2 separate regions of the Homo sapiens genome follow, and region 1 is linked to region 2. A link means that fine-mapping ties the variant in region 2 to the expression of a gene that starts in the linked region. Tissue or cell type: whole blood. Region 2 holds a variant in brackets; the other region holds the start of a gene. All regions are shown on one strand. Distances are between the middles of the regions.

Region 1 (8,105 bases), 87 kb after region 2:
GGTGGCATGTGCCTGTAGCCCCAGAGACTCAGGCAGTTGAGGTGGGCAGATTGCTTCAGCCTGGGAGATTAAGGCTGCAGTGAACCATGATCGCACCACTGCACTCCATCCTGGGCAACAGAACAAGACCGTGTCTCAAAATAAAAAAGAATAATGATAATAAAATAAAAATGTACACAAACACAACCGCCTGGATGGATCAGAGGATGAAGCTGATCCACAGAGGGTCCCTGGCCCCCCCAGCTCTTGCAGGGGTACTGCGGTGACATGGAAGGATGGTCCTGCATCAGTGGATGTGGCTCCGCTCCTGGCCCTCTGTTTGCCGGCTGAGCCTCCCTGGCTATTCATTCCAAATCTCCCTTTCTTGATGATGGGAATAATAAAGGCACCCACCTCAACTACAGGTTTCCCACCTCTGGCAGGTGTGGCCTGGAGAGAGGGAGAAGCTCAGTTTTGGAGCAAGTTCCAAGGCTATGTCACTCTGGGCCCAAACATTTTAAGTTGCTGAATCGATACTGTGTTAGGTGACTTCCAGTGACCACATGAGTTTTTAATGGCCTAAGGGTGACCAGAGAGCCAGGGATCTGTTTCATCCAGGGAGGGAGAAGTGGGAGGGTGGATGTATCCTATAGGGTGGGCTTACACTCTGAGTCTCACCCTTCATTGACCACTGGGATCAGCTGGGGAATGCAAGGAAAGTGCTGGTGCCTGGCTCCCACCCCTAGAATCTGATGGGAGTATCGGAGGTGAGACCTGGGCAGCAGGACTCTTGAAAGCTCCCAGGTGATTCTAATGGCAACAACATTTGAGAACCACTGGCTTGAAACCACTCACTGCAGGGACGGGACAGTGCAAGACAAAAAGAAGGTTGAGCTTTTAGACCCGAGGCATGCTTTAACAGGAGAGTTACGCCATAAGAACAAGTGAAGGAGCCCTCCTGTCTCTGTTGTCCATCCCATTCCCCCATAATGAGTGCTGGCTTAGCATGCAGAACGTTCCTGAAATGTTCGCTCCCTTCCCCCAGCATGTGCCTCTGTGTCACTGCACTTCTTGGATGATGTGGGCTTCCCCTGGAGCAAGTGAGCATCCCAACGGGCCCAAGTGGAAGCTAAGGCTTTTTAGGACTTGGCCACAGAATGTCACCAATACTGCATTCTCTTCACCAAGAAAGCCACTAGACTTTCTCTTCACCAAGGACAGTCCCAGATTTAAGGGGAGAAGAATCAGATTCCAGCTCTTGAAGTGGTGGGCAGCAAGCATGTCCAGGAGGGAGACAGGGAATGCATGGCGGCTGTCTTTGAACATGCGTGATCCTGCCAATGAAACAGGGATTTTGGACTCAGTCCTAAAAGACTGTGATTCTCGCCTTGTCCCCAGCCCACTGGACATCCAGGTGGCCCTGTCCTCTTGGCCACTCCTGGCCTAAGAGAAATGAATGGCCTTTTTCACTGTTCACATCCTCCAGAGTCACCAGAGACTCAGGCACTGTGTGGAGTGGGGCTGGGGTGTTTCCAGGGTAGGGGAGAGGGCAACTGGGAGCCTCCAGGGCTCAGAAGTAAGATGGGGTCCACGAGCACACTCTCAGTGCCTGCAGCCTCTCTTACACTGTCATACAGCCACGTGTACTGCACCAGGGAGGGCACCTCTGTCTAAGAGGATTTGCCAGATAACTGGTGTCTACTCTGTACACCCAAAGAGGATATCTATTTAATGCTTAGCTTTTGAGTGGAAAATCTTTCTAAAATGGCTTATGTGTTCTGGGTCTTCTTAAGCCAAAAACAGGAATCACATTTAACAACATGGGGAAGAAGAAACGTGGGCTTGGAGTCACGTGGATCTGGTTTCACTGACTTAGTTAATCACACAAGCATGCATGCCCAGCCCCAGGAATCCCTCCAGCTTCTATCCTCTACAGGGGCTGAGGTTTTCCCAAGGGACTGCTTCAACTATATGCCATTCTCCTGCTCAATAACTTGCAATGGCTCCCACTGCCTTACTGATTAGATGCAAACTTCTCACCCCAGCAATCAGCACCTTCTATAATCTGGCCCTGGCCTCTGTCTCCCAGCCCTCCTGCACCCCATCCTCTAGCTTTCTGAAGAACTCTGTGAATATTTTCTGGACTTCGCTATCTCGATATCTCTCCACCTAGAACAGTCTTAACTCCCAGGCCCACCAGGAGATATATGCCTACAGTTCTAATCCATCTTCAGCCCCCATTCTCAAAGTCCTGATGATGACAGCTGTTCAGTGGCATTGGCATTTGACACTTTGAATTCACCATCTTCTCCTGTTAATGTCTTTTCATGAACATACATCTTGTCCTCATCCAATCCTCTAATAAATACTTGAGGACCTACTACGTGCTGGGCACCTTCTTCAACCCAGCCCAGCCCTTTAGCCATTCCCCTCTGTGTCTTAGCCGGGCCCATCATTTCTTGAAGCTTTTATAAACATGCAGAAAGAAAATCTACGTCCTATTCAAGTTTGTCCCACAGGATCCCTGTCCCAGTGCCTGATACGGAGCTTGTCACAAGGCAGGTACTAGACATTTGCTGAGCAAGTGGATGGATGCACCAACATTTCGCTGCAAACTGCCCCCTGCTGAGGGAAAGACTGCACAGAGAGACAGTGACTGTCACACACACCTGGTGGCCACAGGACACACCAGGAGCAGGGTCTGAGCACTTGCTCCAGCCAAGCACTGCGAAGTATTGCAGGTAGGGAAGTAACAGTTCCCATCCTTATGGGGATAATGGGATGAATCAACAGCAGAAAGCAATCTACTAGAAAGGCACAATAGTAAGCCCACTTCCCAGAGGGAAGAGAAGAGAGAAATCATTCTGAAATAGATCTGTCCTGTACCTTACATCGTATCTTTCTCAGGATGAAGCAATAAGGTGGAAAACCCTTTGCAGATACTCAGGCCCAGATGTGAAATCCAGTTCTCCTCCTTGCAAATGGCATGCTCTTGGGCAAATTATTTAATCTCGTTTAGTGTCCTGACCTGTAAAATGGGGCCTCCGTCATGGACTTGTAAGGATTTGCTGTGATAAAATATGCCAAGCACCCAGCGTCTGGCACATAGTAGGTGCTCAACAAACCTTAGCGTCTGTTCTCATATGTGTGGTACTTCATGTTTCTGTTCCTTGCAGCTAGCACAGTACTGCGCATGTAACCAGTGTCAAAAATGTGTCAAGGAGAATACATTGACCGAGTGGAATGTGAATTGTAAACAAAAAAGGAAAAATAGGAACCTGGTCTCTGGGCAGATTCTGCCTGAAGACGTTAAAAAGCCCTGTATTTATTTCGTCAAGTTGCCATGGCAGCAACTGATGCTCCAGCCAGCTCCAGGGTTAGCAGGGATCAGTTTATCTTGTTAACCATGGAAATTCCGGAGGTTCAGTGGGATCCAGAGGGGAAGGCAGACACAGTTCTTCTCCAGTCTAGAAATAAATCCTGGAAAGCCTCCTTAGTTTTCATGTAGCTAAAACCATCATTATCTAAAATGATGTTTACATGACAATTTTTATAAGTATGGATTTAGGCACAGGAGATGTAAAATCAGGCAAAAAAAAAAGGGCCAGCGATACTCAGAAGGGCAATTAGCATCATGGAAAACTTAAGGGGCTGCCGGAGAGCCAGGATCTAGACCCCCAGAACTAACTTGGGGCTTCCGCATCTTTTAAGCCTCCATTTGCAGACTCGCTGTCCACACACAGTCTGGATTTTGCTGTCACTTTTTAAACAGGCTTCCACTACAGGTGAAGCTTGGGGAAAAAGCAAGTGTCCCCTCAAACTTCGTTCCCTGTAAAAGAAAACAGCAGCAGATGGGGTCCCTGCCACACACCCTGGAGACAGAAGGGAGCCTGGGTGGCCTCCCGACCTCTCTGCTCCCACCATAACCAACCAACACAACCAGAGAAGGTGCAAGATGTGGCTTTGGTAGATTGGGACTTACTCTCCCAGGCCAAACGCAGCCCTTCCCTGGAGCCAGCTCTGGGTCTTCTCTAGGGTCACAGACTGATGGAGAAATCCGGGATTTGTCTTTGTTCTGGCTCAAGAGAGTTAAGGCACAGAAATAGAATCATCACCCAAGCTCAGAACTCCAGGGCATTCTGCCGGAGGAAAATTCAAGCTGTGAGAGATTTGTTTTTCCGGCCACTGGGAGCCTGTTTGTGTCGGGGAGGGGGGTGGGGGGGTTCTGGCCGCGCTGGGCACTGGTGGCTCCATCAGACTCTACACAAAGCAAAACAGGACAAACGACCGCGGCGCGTCGACGCTTGGCGGGTCACGGTCACAAAGCGGGTCTCAGAGCCTTCCTCAGGCGGCGGCAAAGGGGGCGCCCGAGGTCACCGGCAAGAGACAGATTACTGGCGCCTCGGGAAAACAGAGTGGGGAAGGGCGAGACTGTGTGCCCATCCACGTTCGCGCGGGTCTGAGCTGGCCCGGCCTTGGAGGGCTCCGGGACCCCAGAAGGGGGACAGCAGTGGGGGATGGGCAGAAGGGGGCGACTCGGGCTGCCCAGGCTCCTCGCAGCCTTCCTGCCAACGAGAGGGGCCCGGGCGGGAACAGCTCGAGCCGCGGGGGTGCGGGGCGCGCAGCCCGCCCCACCCCGGGAGAGCCGCGATCGCCGCCCCCGACGCGTGCACCAAGTGGGGGTGTCCGGCTCGGGACAAAGGACCGGGACGCGGATCGCGGGCGGGCGCCACTGCCCAGCCCCAGCGTGGAGGGCGAGACCGTGGCCCCGAACCTCCCCAAACTTGGCGGCCCGGGGCGCGTGGGGGGGACGCCCCGTTACCTGCGCGGCCATAAAGGAGAGATCCATGGTGTCGCTGCAGCCAGCGCTCGAGTCCTCGCTGCTGCCGCTGCCGCTGCGGGTCAGCCGCCTGCACAGTTGGCGGGGATCGGGCTGAGCAGCGAGCGTCCGGAGACCGCACGGCGCACTCGGCTGTCTCTGGGCTTCTGGCTCCAGATCTCTACTAGGCGGAGGGCCCCGAGCGCGGGGGCGGGCGGGGCGGGGTGGGGCGGGGCTCGGCGGACGGGGCGCCCCTCCACGTGACCACTCCCCGCCCCACCCCCGGGGCGGGGTCCGTCAGAAACCCCAAGCGCTCGCAATCGCCTCCCTTCGTGGGCGGGATGGGGAAACTGAGGCCCGAGGCCGCCCCGCTGGTTGGTGCAAGAACCAGCCTGCAACCCAAGTCCTGAGCTGTTGGCGCCCCGCCCCGTGCAGTTGAACCCAACCCACCCGGGGCTGTGGGCAGCGCTCTCTTGGGGCTGACACGTTATCCCGAGCCTGAGGACCAAGATCGGAGTGACCTGGCTTTCCACGCCAACGCTCCTCCCAGAGTCCGGTGTACTCCCGGCTCGGCATCTGGGCAGAACGAGGTTTAATCCTAGCCCTGCTTTGTTGTGCAGCTTGAGCAAGATAGTGTCTTTGAGCCTAGATTTCCTCATCTGTGAAAAGAGAATACAGAACCGAATAATTAAATGAGATAGGGAATATAGCACGCGGTGTCCTCAATAAATGAGAGCCCTAACATGGCTAATCATCCAATAGAGACGAGGCTGTGAGTGGTGTCTTCGAGGACCGCACGGTGCTCAGGTTGCACAGCGGGTACTCCATGGCTCTCAGCTCAAACCAGTATCGAAAATCATGCAGGTGCCACAGTTCAAGTAAGGGGAACAGAAGAGACGCCCACAGGGGCCCATTGCTCTGTATGTGTGTGTGTGTGTGTGTGTGTGTGTGGTGGACACCACAGACTTGGTGACACGTGGAGGCTTTGCCCTCCGGGGGCTCACTGGGAGGGAACCAGCTGTACTCTAAGGAGTCTCAGTGAGTACGACTGGTCCCTTTGGGTGATGTCTCTTCCAGGTACTTTACACTCATGGTCATCACGAGCCTCTGTGAGGGGCAGCCTGGGACTCCCAGACTTTGTCACAGGCAAGGAAGCTGTGGCACAGGGAGATGGAGGGGTTTGTTCAAGGTCCCCCGGCAGCTGGGGGCCCAGTAGGGACTGTGGCTATGGGAATGGGACCAGAACCTCACTGACCTACAGAAGGCTTTCAGTGTTATCTTTCCTGTAACTTTCCTTTCTTTTCTTTTCCTTCCCTTCCTTTCTCCCTCCTTTTCTTCCTCCTCTTCCTTCTCTCCTTCTCTCCCCTTCCCCCCACTTTTTTCTTTCTTTTCTCTTTTCACTTTTCCTGTCATGCTTGCCTCCTCCCTTCCTCCTCTGGTCTCTAAACCCTCCAGTTCCCTGGCCCTCCCTTCCCTCCCTGTTTTTAGCCAGTACTGCACTCACCACACCCATCATTCCTGCCACCTCCCAGCCTAGTCCACACGGGGCCTGCCCAAACAGTCCATGCCAAGAGCCGCCCACCTCCTCCCACCCTTCCTGTGGCCAATAGCAAAGCAGCCTGCCCAGAACTGCCCAGGGCTCCCCGTCTGCTGTAAGAAATATTATGTACACGGCATACTTCACAATAAAAGGGCGTATAGGTTGTGTGTGTGCAATTTGAAAAATAATATAGCCTTGCATAGGTTAAAAAGTGGAACAATAAAAAACAGTCGTGAAGTCCTACTGTGTATCTCTCCAAAGGCATCTCCTACCTGCCCCCTTTCCAGGGTCACCTCCATCCTATTTAGTATTCACTCTTGTCAATTCTCTTGCTTTTCTTTATAGTTTTACCTTTATAGATTACCTGCTTTAACCCTTTGTAGAAAAATTAAATTGCTCTAAATTTGCTCTTCCATGTCTTCTTTGTTGTTTTCTCAGCATTATTTGTGTAGTTGACGTATATTGTTTTTCAGTGCTACACAATATTCCATTTGTATGTCCTTATCACAGTTTTTATTGATGCACTAGCCCTTTGATGGATACTTTGGTCATCTCCAGGTTTTCTGATAACGCCAAAAAAAAATGCTGCTGTGAATACTCTCGATCTTGTCTTTGGATGCACAGGTGCAAGGGGTCCTCAGGGAATACGCTAGGAATGGAACAGTTGGGTATTGTGGTCAGCTCATCTGTGCTTTTACTAATTGATGCCCATTGCTTTCCAGTTTCTGATTTCCAAGGAGGCTTCATCCATTTTATTATCCTACCTATAGTAGGCATGGGTTTTTATTGCTCCACAATTGACCAACACTTTGTATTGTTAGGATTTTTTTTTAAGTTTTGCAAATATGATATGATGAAGTAGTGTTTCATTTGGATTTGATCCTCATTTCTCTGATTACTAATGACATTAAGCATCTTTTATACATCTATTGATCAGTTTCATTTCCTTTGATGAGAAATGCCTTTCACCAGGTCTTTTGTGCTTGTTTTAAAATTTTGCTTATTTTTTTATTGACTCAGGAAAAGTATATGTTTTAGATATTAATCTTGCTAGTTATAGGTTTTTAAATATCATCTTTCATTTTACATTTCTTGTCACTCTATTATACCTTTTCATGAACAGAAGTAAATAATTTTAATTTGGTCAAAATTTATTAATATTTTCTTTTATAGTTAGCCCTTGTTTAATAAATTCTTTGCCAACTTGAGACCATAAAGATAAAGATATTGTCCTGTAGTATTTTAGTAAAAATTTAAATACTTTTCTCATATTTCAGCCTCGTATAACTGATATATTGTGTGTGAGGCGGGAGTAAGGAAGCAATTTTATTTTTCTCATATTAATGTTCAATTATTCCAACCCCATATTGACTAGATCAGCTCTTTCCTATTGATCTGCAACACCAAATTTGTCAGGTGTCCATTTAGCCATCAGTCTGTTTCTAGGTTGTTCTGTTCCATTGGTTGTTCATCTGTCTAATACTAATGCTATTCTGATTTAGTTACTCTAATTTCATGCTAATTCATGTATGGGAGAGCAAGTTTCCTCAATGCGTTCTTTGTTTCCTTACTACCTTTCACTCTTTGCTCTCTGAATACATTTTAGGGTGACCTTGTCAGCTCCCCCAAATAACCTGGACTTGAAGAAAATTCTATTAACTTTTTTGGGGATAATTGACATCTTACAGATAACAAATATTTTCTTCAAGAACATGCCATATCTCCTTATATGCTTAACTTTTCTTTAGTATTTCTATATAAAGATCT
Region 2 (8,105 bases):
AAGCTATCTTTCAGTTTCCACTTATTACACTGAAGCCAGTGGGGCAGCCTGAGCAACATACTGAGACCAGTCTCTACAAAAAATAAAAAATTTAGCCGGGCATGGAGTATGCGCTGGGCTTGGCGGCATGTGCCTGTAGTCCAGCTACTTTGGAGGCTGAGGCGGGAGGATCCTTGAGCCCAGGAGTTTGAGGCTGCAGTGAGCTATGATTGTGCCACTATACTGCAGCCTGGGTGACAGAGCAAGACCCTATCTCAAAAAATAAAAGGAGCCAGCAGAGTGATTGCACTGCCACTCACTGAAGGTCTGAGATCCCCTTTTCCTCCCTCCCCTCCCCCTACTTTGACACCCTCTCAGGTCAAGAGTCCCACTATCTTCCCAGTTGCTCAAGCCTGAATGCCAGGATCCCTTCTGGCCCTCCCAGTTTACACCCCTCAGCCAATCCATCGCCAAGTCTGCCAACTCTACCTCTACAGTGTCTTGAGAATTAGTCACTGGAATGAGACTGCCAGAGTGTGAAACCTGGCCCTGCCTCTTCACTACTACTTGTTAGCAAATGATGTTGTTTCTCAACCTTTCTGTGCCTGAGTTTCCTCATCTGTAAAATGAGAACTGTGCACAGAAACCGTTGTACTGATGTAATTAATAATACTCCCTTTCTCTCTTGAAAGTGTCCTAGTTTGGATAAATTATATGGTCAACCTAACTGATATGAATATTATGAAACCTAATCAAGGTTCCCTCTTCAGGCAATACGCCCATCCCCCTGCTGGGAATATCACTTTTATCTCACTCATTAATGCAAATAAAAGTCTCGATCATCATTCATGTCAGAGCTGCCTTCCTTTGTCCATTGTAAGCGCACAGGGACTGTGGCCCGACCTCCCCCTGGTGCCCCCAGCCCTGCCCTGAGTCCTTCACTGGGAACCATCCTGTGTCTCACCCGCTGTTATACTGTCTCCCAGGGGCAGCCCATGGCTGATGACTGGCTGATTAGGGATATGAAGATCCAGCCCATTTACCGTAATTTGGGGCAACTCTGAAGGGCCTCCCCAGCTCCAGAGTTTCACATGGGATTGTCTGAGGTCTCAGTTGTACCACAGTGTGGGTCCCTTCTCTCTTCCCAATTCTATCTTCCTCTCTTCCTACTGGTGAATCCTTCGAGAGCAATACCCAGTAACCATTCTGAATCTGGTTCCCCATATTACAGTTCCTTTCCAGAGAACTGAATCTTAGACACTAATAACAATCTTGGTCAACATTTCTTTCCAGCGTGGCTGTGAGCAACTTGAGGTCAGGGCCCATGTTTTCTTTGCCTTCCCGGTCTTGGCAAATGGCACATAGATCGTGCTCATCTTAGGTTGGTTGAAGTGCCTGAAATGCAACTGGAAGGGCGAGGTGGTTACTACCCTGGGAACAAAAGAGGTAGATAAGTTAGAGACCTGGGTTAGGCACTTACCTCAACCTTCCTCTCCACCAGGAAGGCGGTCTAAGTCAGGTTGCTGAACACACACCTCCCAGAATAGGGGATGCAACATCAAGGCTGGCACAGCTCCTGCAAATGTGGGGTTGTGTCTGTGTTATGGGATTTGATGCTATTGCCTGCGCTAATAGAAGAGCCAACCAAAAGTAGATTAAACTTTAAAGGCATTTATCATCTCAGATAGTAAGAACTCTTGAGGCAAGGCAGCTAAAGGGTTGTTTAGTCCTGTGGTTCAATAATGAGGATCCAACTCCTGTCTGCTCTGCCTTTTTTGACATGTTATCTTTAGTCCTTAGGCTTATCTCCTCATGGTCGTAAAATGGCAGCCATATTTCCAGACATTACATTTTCACCTGTTAAGGCCAACACAGAAAGCCATTTCAGCCACTGACAACTGCACACATGAACTTCCCCCACTCAGGACCCTCAGGTGACTTAGATACGGGCTCCCTCAGGGGCCCTAAAGTTAGGTAGTCCAAATGTAGAAAGGACAGGAACAACCCACTTCTATAGACCCCACAGGCCCAGCTTCCTGGGTGAGTGGCCTGGGCAGCCCCACAGGACCCCTTGCTCAGTAAGGCCTAGTGCTTGGATTAAGGCTGTGCTGTGGCTGTCTTGAAATTCTTAACACTTTTATCTTTGAATCTGTTTGTAAGTGAAGTCTGATGGGACACTGGAGCATGACTGTGACCCGAGGAGGGAAGTGCAACGTGTGTGTCTCTGTCCCTTGCTGCTCCTTGACACAGTGTTCAAGATGCTCTATGAACCCACGATGCGTCAGTGATCGGTAAGACTCAAAGTGAGCACAAGGTAAGTGTGTTACAGCTACGACTGAATAGGGGGCTCTGCCACCCCCAAGGGGTCACATTTTCTTTTCATATCAGAACTTGCTTTGAAAGCACAAAGTAGGCAGTGGTGTTCTAAGAAACAGGAACAATCAAGGCATCTTGTCATATCCATTCTCATTCATGTTGTTTCCCTGTATTGACCAACCATATAGGGTGACGATGATGGCATAGAAAGACAAGGAAAGATGGTCCCTTTCCTTTCGGTCCTGCTTTACTCCTCAGGAAGATGAAGGTAGAGTTTGGGTAGAATGTGCCCATAGCAAGACATGAAGGGGCTGGGCATGGTGGCTCATGTCTCTAATTCCAGCACTTTGGGAGGCCGAGGTGGGAGGAACACTTGAGGCCAGGAGTTTGAGACCAGCCTAGGCAACACAGCAAGACCCTGTCTCTACACACACACACACACACACACACACACACACACACACAATTGAATTAAAATAGTTCAGCTAATTTGGTATTCTGTCTTAGCTGTACTGGTAAGAACAAATACATATGTATATATAAGCTACAAAATACAAATTGCATAATATCAGTGATTCCGCATGTAAGTTAAATGTCTCTATTTGCATTTAAAACTGGAAATGCACAATGTCAAGATGAACAGAATTTATGCTAATCATTTAACATTTTAATTTTTCTTTGCTTACAAAGTTAAATAGCAAGTAAAAAAAAAATTCCATGACAGAGAGGGAGAGAGAGAGAGAGAGAGAGAGGAGAACAGCTTTATATTTTAGTACCTTTAATGGCATTTTTCTCCGTGTTTTTATTTTGCAGTGGTGCAGATGCTGGAAGTCCTTTGAAGAAGTGATCCACAATGGAATGAGTGTCTGGGACTTAGGCAGTAAGGTCCTTGGTTCTGGAAGATTTCAAACAGCAATTAGAAGATGTCTATAAGAGATGCGGTAGAAGATTCCTGACATGCGTACAGTGATCCTCAAGACTCCCTTTAAAGCTAATAATTCCATAACTTTTAGTGGGGGAGTGACAGGTCCACATTCCCTTCTCTGATACCACTGGGACCAGATTATTCCAGAATTCAGGACTTTCATATCTTATAATGTATGCATATAACTTGCATTATGTAACACCCCTAGGGGAGTTTGGAAAGCACCCCAAAGCCCAACACACTAGTATCTCTGGAGAAAACCATAAGCAGGTGACAAACACAAACCATGAAAAGCCTCATGTTAGGTTTAGCTGGGAAACAAACTCAGGGAGGTCAGATTGTCCCACCAAATATGGGAAGTCTTTTGGAATTTGAAGCTTTTGGACTTTCAGATAAGGGATTATGGATCTGTTTGTGAACTCTTAAGTCATTTCACAGATTGGAAAAAAACAAAACAAAAATCCCAAACAATGTATACATGGAGGCACCTGAGATGTCTTTAAATTTCATGATGGGAAGAAAGAAACCAACACTTGTACACTGGTTTAGACCTGATGAAAGTGCTTGGGGCTCCACTGTCTATTAGACACTCACCGTGACCTTATGAACGAAGACGCATCATCTCCATCCTTTGGGGACAGGGAAACTGAAGCTTCCACAGAGCCGGCATCACATAGTACATGCTAGTGCCTGTGTGAGAACACACAGATTTGGGACTCCAAATATCAGGCTTTTTCTATAACCTCAAAAACCTCCTAAATGGTGCCCAGTGAATGTATTTCAGGCAGTGCTGCCATTCAGAGGGATGCCCCCATCTAGCTGTACTGAATGTTGGAGTTCTTCCTTTTAGGTGATATATCACCAAGGCCCTAAGTCTGTGGAGGCCTCTAGCCTTATCCTGCTGCCCCAGAGTGCCCCAGACTCTCCCAAAGTGTAGTAACTGTGCAAAGGGCAGACGCCTGGCAGAACAGGGACCCCAGGGGCTGGAGACTGTACCCTATTGTAGCTACATATTTGGAACATCACACCTACTAGAATTGTGCTAAGATACTGACCAGTCCTTGAGTATGTTGCCTTCCACCAAGAAGAGAGCACTCCCCTCCCCCAGAGATGTTCTATGTGTGTTTAGCTGGGAAGCTCTGCACAGCTGCACGCTGGTATATCCATGCTTGCCTGAGAATCACAGCTGCCTGGAGCTCTTGGGAAACACAGACTCCTGGGCCCCATCCTGACCTATTACAGAATCAGAATCTCCTGACACAGGCGCAGGTGTTTTGTGCACAAACGTTCCAGCTGAGTGCCGCCTAGAGTTGGGCAAGTTTGGAGATCACCGTGGCACTCCATTTACTTTGGTAAGAAGGATCTAATCAACCCATTCAAATTTGCAGAGGCAACAGTAAACAACTCTGTCTAGCTCTTCCACATAAGCACATTTAGAGACAAAATTTTCAGCTCTAATGGTTTCCACATTTCTTTCCTTGTCACTTCCTCCTTTTGTCAATGTCAATGTATATGTGTGTATTTCCAAGGATGCCATGCCTTGCCCCATGTCCTGTAGCAACCGGGCTGTGCCCACCCCACCCAGGCTGACCGGGTGCTCAGTGAGCACATTCTCCACTGTGCTTCACCCCACCCCATTGTGGAGATCTCAGAAACAGTGGGTTCCCCAGGTGACATTCAACCTCAGATGTGCATTTGTCACGCTCAGTTCTAAATTGGCTTGTTTTGGCAACCACCTGATGTTTCTAAATATGTGTTCTCCACAT[G/A]TCCTCTTGCCTGAATCTTGAGAAATCTACACAGGAACTGGTAGCCTAGCTACGGAGAGAAGGTTTTTTCCCCTTCCTTTTCCCTTTGAAGCTGCCTGTGGTTGCACCCAAACGCTGCAGATGCAACCATGGATGTGTGCGCTGTATCCTCAGCCAGCTCTGGGTCAAGAGCCTGCTTGGCGTTTTTATGTTTCCCTTCTTATGAAGGATAAGGAAATGTGGGGGCAAATGGAATCTCTGCTGGGGACATTTTCAGCCGCCGATGCCACCAAAAGGAAGTGAATTTCTTTTCTGTTTATATCTCAGGAAATAATCTGTCACATTTGAAATCATTTCAGAAATATCTACTGCTCATAAACTTTCTGTTCCTTCATCCCCTGATCTGTTGATTCTGTAACATTATAGAGGGAAGGAAGAATGGATTAAGCAGCATAAAATACCATAAGTTCCTTAAAATGAGGATCCACATTTTCTTGTAGAAATGAGCTGGAATCAAAGCCCAGCAGCTCATTGTAATTCATTGGCTGTGTGACCTTATAAAAGTTACTTAACTTCTCTGAATCTTGGTTTTTCTTTACATAAAATGGAGATAATAATTGTAGTCAATTGTAAAAATGGTCACAATCTTCCACTCCTCCCCAAATGCTCACCACTGGCAGTGGGCTTTGCAGTTCCTCCTATCAAGAAGTGATGTCCATTTCCCATTCCTTTTTAATTTGCTTTGGTCAATGGAATGATAGGTGCTGGTTCTGAGTCTAGGTTCTAGGAGACGCATTGCACATGTCTGTCTTGGAACTCTGCCCAGTTGCCATGCGAGAAATCTGGCCTGGCTTGCTGGAGGATGAGAGACACGTGGAACTGAAAGGAACCATTCCAAGGAAGGCCATTCTAAATCAGCCAGCCTCCAGTCAACCCAGCACTGGGTACAAAGGCAAAGGTGAACCCAGGTAAGGCTAGAAGTATCTCCTAGCTGAGCCCAATACAAACTGTCTACCTGCCAAATGGTAAGCTATATAAGTGGTTGTTTATTTAAAGTCACTAGTTTTGGAGTAGCTTATTATGCAGGAAATGCTAATATAATGTGCTTGTCTTTCAGTGCTGTTGTGTAAACAAAATTAGGTATCACACATGAAACACCTGAATCCATACATACCGATGAACAGAACTTGTTTGGATGGATTGCTAACCCAGCTGCATATCCATAAATTGCATACTTCCTGTGTGGAAGATGTAAGCATCAGTGTCCATAGCGTATATTGAAAAATAAATGCATTTCCCTATGAAGATATAATGACACCGTAGATAGAATGTTTAAAAGGAACCCATAAAATTTGCCTGTTATCCTACTGCCTCTACCATAAGGTTCAAATATCTTAGTAGGACTGACAAAATCCTTCAAAGTCATATTCCAGCCTCATCTGTCTTTTTAAACTGTTTCTACTCCTTGTTACCTCCATTCATAATAAATGACATCTGAGACATTCATTATGTAAAATTTCCTTTTAGTTTTGGTCCTTCCTATGGTTTGGCTGTATCCCCACCTAAAAAATCTCATCTAGAATTGTATCTCTCATAATCCCCATGTGTTGTGGGAGGGACCAGGTGGAAAGTAATTAAATCACAGGGGCATGTTTTTCCCATGCTGTTCTTGTGTTAATGAGAAAGTCTCACGACATCTGATGGTTTTATAAAGGGCAGTTTCTCTGCACATGCTCTCTTGTCTGCCACCATGTAAGACGTGCCTTTGTTTCTCCTTCCCCTTCGGCCATGATTGTGATGCCTCCCCAGCCATGTGGAACTGTAAGTCCATTAAATCTTTTTCTTGGCCAGGTATGGTGGCTCATGCCTGTAATCCCAGCACTTTGGGAGGCCAAGGCAGGCAGATCACCTGAGGTCAGGAGTTCAAGACCAGCCTGGCCAACACGGTGAAACCCCATCTCTACTAAAAATACAAAAAATTAGCCAGGCGTGGTGACACACCCCTGTAATAGCTACTCAGGAGACTGAGGCACAAGAATCTCTTGAACCTGGGAGGCGGAGGCTGCAGCAAGCCGAGATTGCACCACTGAACTGCAGCCTGGATAACAGCCTGAAACTCCATCTCAAAAACAAAACAAAACAGAATAAAACAAAACCTCTTTTCCTTTATGAATTACCCAGTCTCAGGTATTTCTTCATAGCAGTATGAGAATGGACTAATACAGTCCTTAAAGAAACAAAAAACTCAGAGGTGAAATGTGTTTTTTAATTAACGTTATGAGGTATGATTTACATGTGTATAAATTATAGTGTACAGACTGATGAGCTTAGATAAATGAATTTACCATATAACCACCATCTCAATCAAGATAAAAGCATTTCTGGCACCCCAAACATTTCCCTTGCACACTTTCCCAGTCAATTCCACTCCCATCAACAATCCCAGGCTACCATTGATCTGATTTCCATCACTACAGATGGATTGAGTCTGTTTTAGAACTTCTTAGGAATGCAGCCACATACCCTTTCCTGATTGGCTTCTTTCACTCAGGGTAATGTGTTTTTGAGATTGATCTATGTTGTGTGTATCAGTAATTCATTCCTTTTTATTACTGAGTCTTCCAGTGGAGGGCTATACTACAATTTGTTTATCTATTCACCTGTTGATGGACTTGGGGTTGTTTTCAGTTTCGGGGTTTTATGAATAAAGCTGGTAGAAACATTTTTGTGTGAGCATTTTTTTTTTTGGTGTGTGTGTATGCATGTTTTCATTTTGTGGGGGACTAAATACTTAGAAGTATAAAGGCTGGGTTATATGGTAAGTATATATTTAACTTTGTAAGAACTGCTAAATTGTTTTCCAAACGTCTGTACCATTTTACACTCTTGCCATTAGGGCATGAGTGTTCTATTAGGTTGGTGCAAACTTAATTTTGTTTTTGCCATTAAAAGTAATTTTTGCACCAAGAATAGTAATAGCCTTGCCAGCCCTCGGTATTAACTTTTTAATTTTAGCCACTCTTCTAGGTGTGAAGTGGTATCTCATTGTGGTTTCAATTTGCATTTCCTTGATGACTAATTATGCTGAACAGTTTTTCATGGACTTTTTGGCCATTTGTATATTTTCTTTGGTGAAGTCT

Evidence for each region. PIP is the estimated chance that this variant, and not a neighbour inherited with it, causes the effect.
Region 1: C14orf132 starts here. The variant in region 2 is fine-mapped to the expression of C14orf132 in whole blood (TOPMed, PIP above 0.99).

Annotation. Positions count from the first base shown.
Region 1 is chr14:96,036,224-96,044,328 of GRCh38, reverse strand. C14orf132 (chromosome 14 open reading frame 132) reads right to left here and starts at 4,967. Exons shown (of 2, transcript NM_001252507.3): 1 at 4,802-4,967. The coding sequence starts at 4,828. RefSeq lists silencers at 4,858-4,907, 4,928-5,117.
Region 2 is chr14:96,123,436-96,131,540 of GRCh38, reverse strand. No RefSeq gene overlaps it. Among named protein-coding and RNA genes, the nearest start is that of BDKRB2, 77 kb to the left of the region's middle. RefSeq lists an enhancer at 5,002-5,171. The variant G/A (reference allele first, on the strand shown) is at 4,987.